Homo sapiens: one gene and its partner. The gene in region 2 interacts genetically with the main gene of each other region. Each region holds a gene or a part of one and is shown on either strand. Other genes may lie near its edges.

Region 1 (3,500 bases), on a different chromosome or scaffold from region 2:
TTGCAAATTCAAATGGCCCAATTCCTGGCAGGGTGAATATGGATGATAAGCAGCTAATTCTGGTCAGTATAACCATATATTTAACTACCATGACCTTCTGCTTGGAAGAAAAAAATGTCTTCCATGGAAGTAAAATGTTAGTGACACACATACCTCCATTCTTGTTGCCTCCCCTCCTTTCACAATCGGCACTGTTTTTCCAGCATGTATTCTATATTGCCCAATTGAATGTCCATTTAGATTACGGATTGGTTTCACTGTTATAAAAAATAGGGAAATAAAAGTCATTCAGGATCTCAAGAAGCAAAAACAGATCTCTTACATTTTGGTACAGAGTTCAAGCATTTATTCAAAAACCAGGTATGGCTTTACTAAATAACCTTACATTAAGGTAGTTTAATATAAACTGGAATCTAGTGGAATATAAAAAGTAGTTGCAGTGTTATTAATACTAGAAGTAGGCCAGGTGCAGTGGCTCATGCCTGTAATCCCAGCACTCTGGGAGGCCGAGGCAAGCGGATCACCTGAGGTCAGGAGTTCGAGACCAGCCTGACCAACATGGCGAAACCCTGTCTCTACTACAAATACAAAAATTCGCTGGGTGTGGTGGTGGGGGCCTGTAATTCCAGCTACTCAGGAGGCTGAGGCAGGAGAATCACTTGAACCCGGGAAGCGGAGGTTGCCGTGAGCCAAGATCACATCACTGCACTTCAGCCTGGGCGAAAGCAACTCCGTCTCAAAAAAAAAAAAAAAAAAAAAAAACGGTGCTAGAAGGGAGGATGGAAGAAAGAAATACAGGATTAAGGGCACAAGGGAGGTCATCTAAGGAGGTATAAGGAGGTACTGTTAACAACAAATAAAATGCCATGTACACAAATTATTAGAAACATAAAAAATACATATTTGTATTGTTACAGACCAAAAGATAATGTGAAAGATACTGTTAATATGACAGTATTATAAAACTTTATATCAACATTTCAAATGTTCAAAAAGAAAACCTATGTGGCTGAGACACAGTAATTAAGAAATAGAAGTAAGAAAGAAGAAAGAAAATCTAAACATCCCACTGTCATGACAGCAAGGACAGAATAGACAAATTGTGGCATATTCACGAGGGAATAACATTCAACAATCAAAACAAAAAGCTAGGAATACATTTAACAACTGGAATAAAACGTCTAGCTTTTTTATTCCAGTTGTTTTAAAACTGACAAAATGAGCAGAAAAAGGCACAATTACATATATACTGTACAATTCCACATATATATAATAGTTCAAAATTAGGCAATAAAACTAGTTTAGGGATGCATAATTAGGTAGTAAAGACATAAAGAAAAGCAAATGAAAATCCTTTCATACTTGCAGTGCTGATAAGCTAAATATATTTTAAAATTCAGACATCATTACTATTTCTCTAAGACCTGGCAAACTGACCCCACAAGCCAAGATGGTGGCTCACTAGAGGCAGGCTGCTGTAATTGGAAAGCAGTGTATTGCTGCTATGGTTTGAATGTATCCCCCAAAGGTCATGTATTGGGAATTTCATCCCCAGTGTGATGGTGTTGGGAGGTGGGACCTAACAGGAGGAGTTTGGGCCATGGAGGCACCACTCTCATCAATGAATTCAAGCCATTATCTCAGGAGTGGGTTCCCTGTAAAGGACAAGTTTGACCATTTCTTGCTCTCTCTCTCAAACTTCTCATTGCCCTTCTGCCTAATGCCATAGGATGATGCAGCAAGAAGACCTTCACCAGATGCCAGTCCCTCAATCTTCCCAGCCTCCAACACTGTGAGAAATCAATTTCTGTTCTTTATAAATTACCTAGTCTCAGGTATTCTGCTGTAGCAGCACAAAACGGACTAAGAAAATGAGACTGAGCGTCTTCTGGAATACTGGCAATATTCAATTTCTTGAGGAGTGAGGTTACGTAGCTTCTGCAATTGAGAAGCTGAGTTTTTATGCTTTGTGCATTTTGTGTTAATATTTCAAATTTTAAAAAAGGGCTAAAAACGGCCAGGTGCAGTGGCTCACGCCTGTAATCCCAACACTCTGGGAGGCCAAGGCAGGTGGATGACTTGAGGTCAGGAGTTCAAGACCAGTCTGGCCAACACAGTGAAACCCCATCTCTACTAAAAATATAAAAATTAGCTGGGCGTGGTGACACACCTGTAGTCCCAGCTATTTGGGAGGCTGAGGCAGGAGAGTCACTTGAACCCGGGAGGCAGAGACTGCAGTGAAATGAAACTGCACCACTGTACTCCAGTCTGGGCGACAGAGTCTCAAAAAAAAAAAAAAAAAAAGGTTGGGGGGGAGGTCTTAAAAAAATTTAACTCTATAACTCTAGAATCCTCAGTATGAGCTACCTTTCTTCTAGAGCAGAGTTAAGTAGTCTGAAGCAATGAACAAGTATGTTACAAACTTAGTGGGACAGCAAGAAAAACAAATCAATTCACTCTTCACAACAACCTTCTTATATAAATGTGTCAAAGTTGTCAGACTCAAACAGAGCTAGGGAAAGCCATGAAGAGAGGGTTCTCATGCTTATACACCTGATAATGAAAATGACTATGAAAACCATAACCTTGCACAAAGCCCACTGCAACCTTACACAAAAAAATACTTCTGCAAGGACATCTGCCCAACAACTGCCTGCCCAACCTCCGACTGGCGTCACTTTTGTTATTAATCTTTGGAGCCAAGGATAATTATTTCAAAACAATTATGTCATCCTCATTTTCGTCTTCAAAAACCTCTGTCTTCCTTACCTCCCTGAATATGCACAAGTTTACTATGGCATTCCCACTGCAATGCTCTATTCCCAAACATCATTTTCTTTTAGAGAGCCTCTGTTTGTTATTTAGGTTGACAAGTAACAAGCTTATTTTAAAATTCAAACTTTGCAGACTGACCCTTACAAGCCAATCAATTTTTTTAAAGAAAGTTTCTTAGCCATACCAACCTAATATGTTAGTTACACAGAAAAATGAGGGTACAGGGGAATTCATTTTTTACTTATGCAGGTTGTAACAGCACAGGCTAATTCTGGGACCAGTAATTTGTTAACAATCACTTTTTAATTCTATTGCTTCCTGATCAAAGGAGATTAAGATACTCCTTTGATGGCCCGTTTGTGCTATGTGTTTTGATTTGTTCTGGAAAGTTCAACCCGGAATCCATTTCTTCATCTCCCTATTATCATGATTTTTCCACATCCTCTCTGCTTAAACTATAAAAATGGATTGTTGCCTTAAACTAAGAACACTGATCAATAAAATAACAGGGATCAAAAGAGGGGTACTGAAATAATGAAACCAAAAATGCTGCACTAGCTTAATGGAAGAGGTAAAAGGGTAGATATTAAAAATCCCGATGTTGCAGGCTGGAATTATTATGCAGTGACTAAAACATTAAGTCAAACTGTCACCTACCATACCTTGAAAGGCAGACCACATACCAAACAAGTTGTAGAATTAGGAGAAAATGAAAGGAAAAAGAG
Region 2 (3,500 bases):
TCCATGGGCTGTGCTTCCAGATGGAGGGCCCTGCCCGGACTCGACACCCTGGAGGCATCAACACTCAGGAACAAGGCCCTAGAGGAGGGCCACGCACCCGCCCCTGCACCTGCACCTGCAGCAGAGCCCTGGGGCCACCCACTCTCTGCAGGCCCCCTCGTCCCCTCATCCCTCTCAGCCCCAGGTGGCTGTGACCACGAATTACTCGTGAGGCCTCTTGTTCTTGTTTTCCTGCCAACAGGAGCCAGCACCTGGACCAGCACCGAGTCGGCCGGCTCGCCGACAGTGTGACATCCCTATTTATTTTCTTTTTTGTGTGTGAGTCAGGGTCTGGCTCTGCCACCCAGGCTGGAGTGCAGTGGCACCATCACGGCTCACTGCAGCCTCCACCTCCCAGACTCAAGGGATACTCCTGCTTCCGCCTCCCAAGTAGCTGGAAACATAGGTGCATGTCACCATGCCTGGCTCGCCCTGCAATTCTAAGCCCTCTGTGGATGGAGGTGGGATGGGAGCAGATCCACAGCGACCATGAAATGCCCAGCTTGCAACTCACAGTGGAAGGCAGGCACTGCAGGGACAGCTCACGGGGAAGAACTGACACACTTTCTGTGACCAGTGCCCTGGACATGGCCCGGAGTCACATCCTAGGGTGGAGGGGGGCACCAACCTTGCAGGGCTTCAGCACCCCAACCCCAGAGGGCCCTGGAGGAGGGCCGGTATGGGGGGCCCGGGGAGGCCTGAGAGACTGGGCCCAGGGCCGAGACACAGAAGGCTTCGTGGGGGGTGGGGACACAGAAACCGAGCAGAGACAAAGCCGCTTTCTGCTCTGCCCTTGGGAACAGAGGGTTGCAGCCTGGGCACCGTGTCCTTGGATCTGCAGCCTGGTGCGCAGATGGGAGTGCCTCCCACACTGGGCAGGGGAGCTGGAGCCTGGACAGCAGGCCAGGGCCTCATTTCAGCACCACCTTTCTCTGCTCCCATGACGACAGCCAGCGAGGCCGTGCGCAGCCTGGAGATGTGGCAGGGGGCACTTGCCTCCCTGGGCTGGCCCCAGAGCAGGGAGGCCACTCACCACTCCAGGCTGTCCCCCTGGTGCAGCGCACGCAGGGCGGCATCCGGGTTCTGGTCGTGGAGATAGATGGAGGCGGCCATGAGCAGGAAGGTGGTGTTGGTCACGTCCACGCTCCTGCTCATCTCTCGGTCCAGCTCGGCCACGATGCTGTCCCTGCAAGACAGAGATGCTCACGACCCACAGCTGGGGTGGCCTCTGTGGGACCTCAGAGGGTCCCCTTCCTTGGAAGCAGACAGGTCCAGAGAGGGTGAGCCAGGCCCTGGGGGTGCAGAGCAGCAGCAGGCCGAGCATCGAGCTGTCCCGACATGTCCTCCCTCCGTTCCTATGAAGCACCTCTCATGCTGGGCCAGGCAAGGACCCGAGGCCGGGAGATGTGGGGTGGGGCGCTCCAAGGGGACATGAGGAGGCACCGTCAGTCTCACACCAACCTCACCCGCCTTCCTGAGGAGGCTGGTGGGCCCAGCTGGGACTCCTGACCATAACCCATCAACCCTGTGGGCTTCAAGGCCACGTCTTCTAGCAGGAGGTCGGCCTGGGTGCCGAGGGGCCGTGCAGAAGGATGGGAGCCCTGGGGCACCCCCACTGCCAGGGCAGCTGCCCTCAGTCCCTGAGAGCCCAGGGTGCTGGCTGCACCCTGAAGATGGCCAGTGTGCTGCGGGCCAGGGCCAGGCTTGAGCCCAGGCAAGGCTGAGGACCGGCTCAGCTCCGAGGGCACAGGTCACCCATGCCTCCATGTCCCTAACTGGACCCAGACCCTCCATTCCCCATGGCTATTGAGCAGCTAAAAAGAGAAGGCAGGTGAGGGGGCCACCCTAGACCAAAGCTGGTGTTCTTCTGGGTTCAAACGTGGCTCTGTGACCCCGTAAGCATCCACGCGCATCTGGGGGCTGTCTGCCCAGGGCCCGTGTCTGAGGTGTCACTGAGGGCATGGCATGTCTGATACCAACCAGGCTCCACTGAGGGCTCGCCACAGTGCCAGGTCCAACAGACAAGTGACTTCAGGTCTGAGTCTGTTTCCCCGTGCTGAGGGACCATGTTACAGGGATCATGCAGGGGAGGAGCAAGGAGCTCCCAAGACCATCTTACAAAGCTTCCTGAGGCTCCAGCACACAAGGGTGTATAAACACTGCCAGTTGTCGTAGCGTTGGTACTGTAATGTTGTCATCCTAAGGTGTTACAATTACCAATGGGGCCGGGTACTGTGGCTCACACCTGTAACCCCAGCGCTTTGGGAGGCCAAGGCAGGATCGCTTAAGCCCAGGAGTTCAAGACCACCCTGGGCAACATAGTAGGACCCCTTTTTCTACAAAAAAGTAAGAAAGTCAGCTGGGCCTGGTGGCGCCTGTAGTCCCAACTACTTGGGAGGCTGAGGCAGGAGGATGGCTTCAGCCCGGGAGGTTGAAGCTGCGGTGAGCTGTGGTCACACCTCTGCACTCCAGCCTGGGTGACAGAGGGAGACCATCTCAAAAACAAGCAACAGCAACAAAATCAATTACTGGGCGGATCGCTTGAGCCCAGGAGTTTGAGACCAGCCTGGGCAACATGGCAAAACCCCATCTCTCTTTTTTTTTTTTTGAGACGGAGTCTCGCACTTTCGCCCAGGCTGGAGTGCAGTGGTGCGATCTTGGCTCACTGCAAGCTCCGCCTCCCGGGTTCATGCCATTCTCCCGCCTCAGCCTCCCGAGTAGCTGGGACTACAGGCACCCGCCACCATGCCCGGCTAATTTTTTTTGTATTTTTAGTAGAGATGGGGTTTCACGTGTTAGCCAGGATGGTCTCCATCTCCTGACCTCGTGATCCGCCCGCCTCGGCCTCCCAAAGTGCTGGGATTACAGGTGTGAGCCACTGCGCCCGGCCAGGCAAAACCCCATCTCTAAAAAATATACAAATTAGCCAGGCATGGTGATGCGTGCCTGTAGTCCCAGCTATTCGGGAGGCTGAGGTGGGATGATCACTTGAGCCTGGGAGATCAAGGCTGCAGTAAGCCAAGATTGTGCCACTGTATGCCAGGCTGAACGACAGAGCAAGACCGTATCTCAAGAAAACAAAATCAAAACCAAAACCAATTACTAATGGATGCTCCTTGTCCCCGGGGCGTCCTGCCAATGAGGTCGCGGCTGTGCAGCCAGATGAACGGACCACAAGCCCCTGCCTGGACCGCCTGCTCTCCGGGGCTGCTTTTCTGTGATGCTCACAGCAGCTGCTGCTCCTGGGGGACCCAGGGTTCCCTGCCTTCACTCCAGCTGGTGAAGTAAGTGCAGGGTGGGAGAAACAGTGGCCCTGGGAGGTCACCTGTCTCAATGTCCTGGAGCTGCTGTGGCAAAGCACCACAGCCCGGGCAGTTAAGGACAACAGGGATTCGTTCCTCACAGCTCTGGAGGCCGTAAGTCTGAAGTCAAGGTGGCGGCAGGGCTGGCTCCAGCTGGAG

The links. Genes that interact genetically often act in the same process or in processes that back each other up.
Region 1: changes in COPE (region 2) and METAP2 together harm fitness more than expected from each alone (negative genetic interaction), as found in Homo sapiens cells (one large-scale study listed by BioGRID).

What each region holds. Positions count from the first base shown.
Region 1 is NC_000012.12:95,508,652-95,512,151, reverse strand, and holds part of METAP2 (methionine aminopeptidase 2), read right to left. Parts: intron 258-3,500; coding exon 154-257; intron 1-153. UniProt on the Homo sapiens protein: Cotranslationally removes the N-terminal methionine from nascent proteins. The N-terminal methionine is often cleaved when the second residue in the primary sequence is small and uncharged (Met-Ala-, Cys, Gly, Pro, Ser, Thr, or Val).
Region 2 is NC_000019.10:18,905,888-18,909,387, forward strand, and holds part of COPE (coatomer subunit epsilon), read right to left. Parts: intron 1,226-3,500; coding exon 1,073-1,225; intron 49-1,072; coding exon of another isoform or gene 1-48. UniProt on the Homo sapiens protein: The coatomer is a cytosolic protein complex that binds to dilysine motifs and reversibly associates with Golgi non-clathrin-coated vesicles, which further mediate biosynthetic protein transport from the ER, via the Golgi up to the trans Golgi network.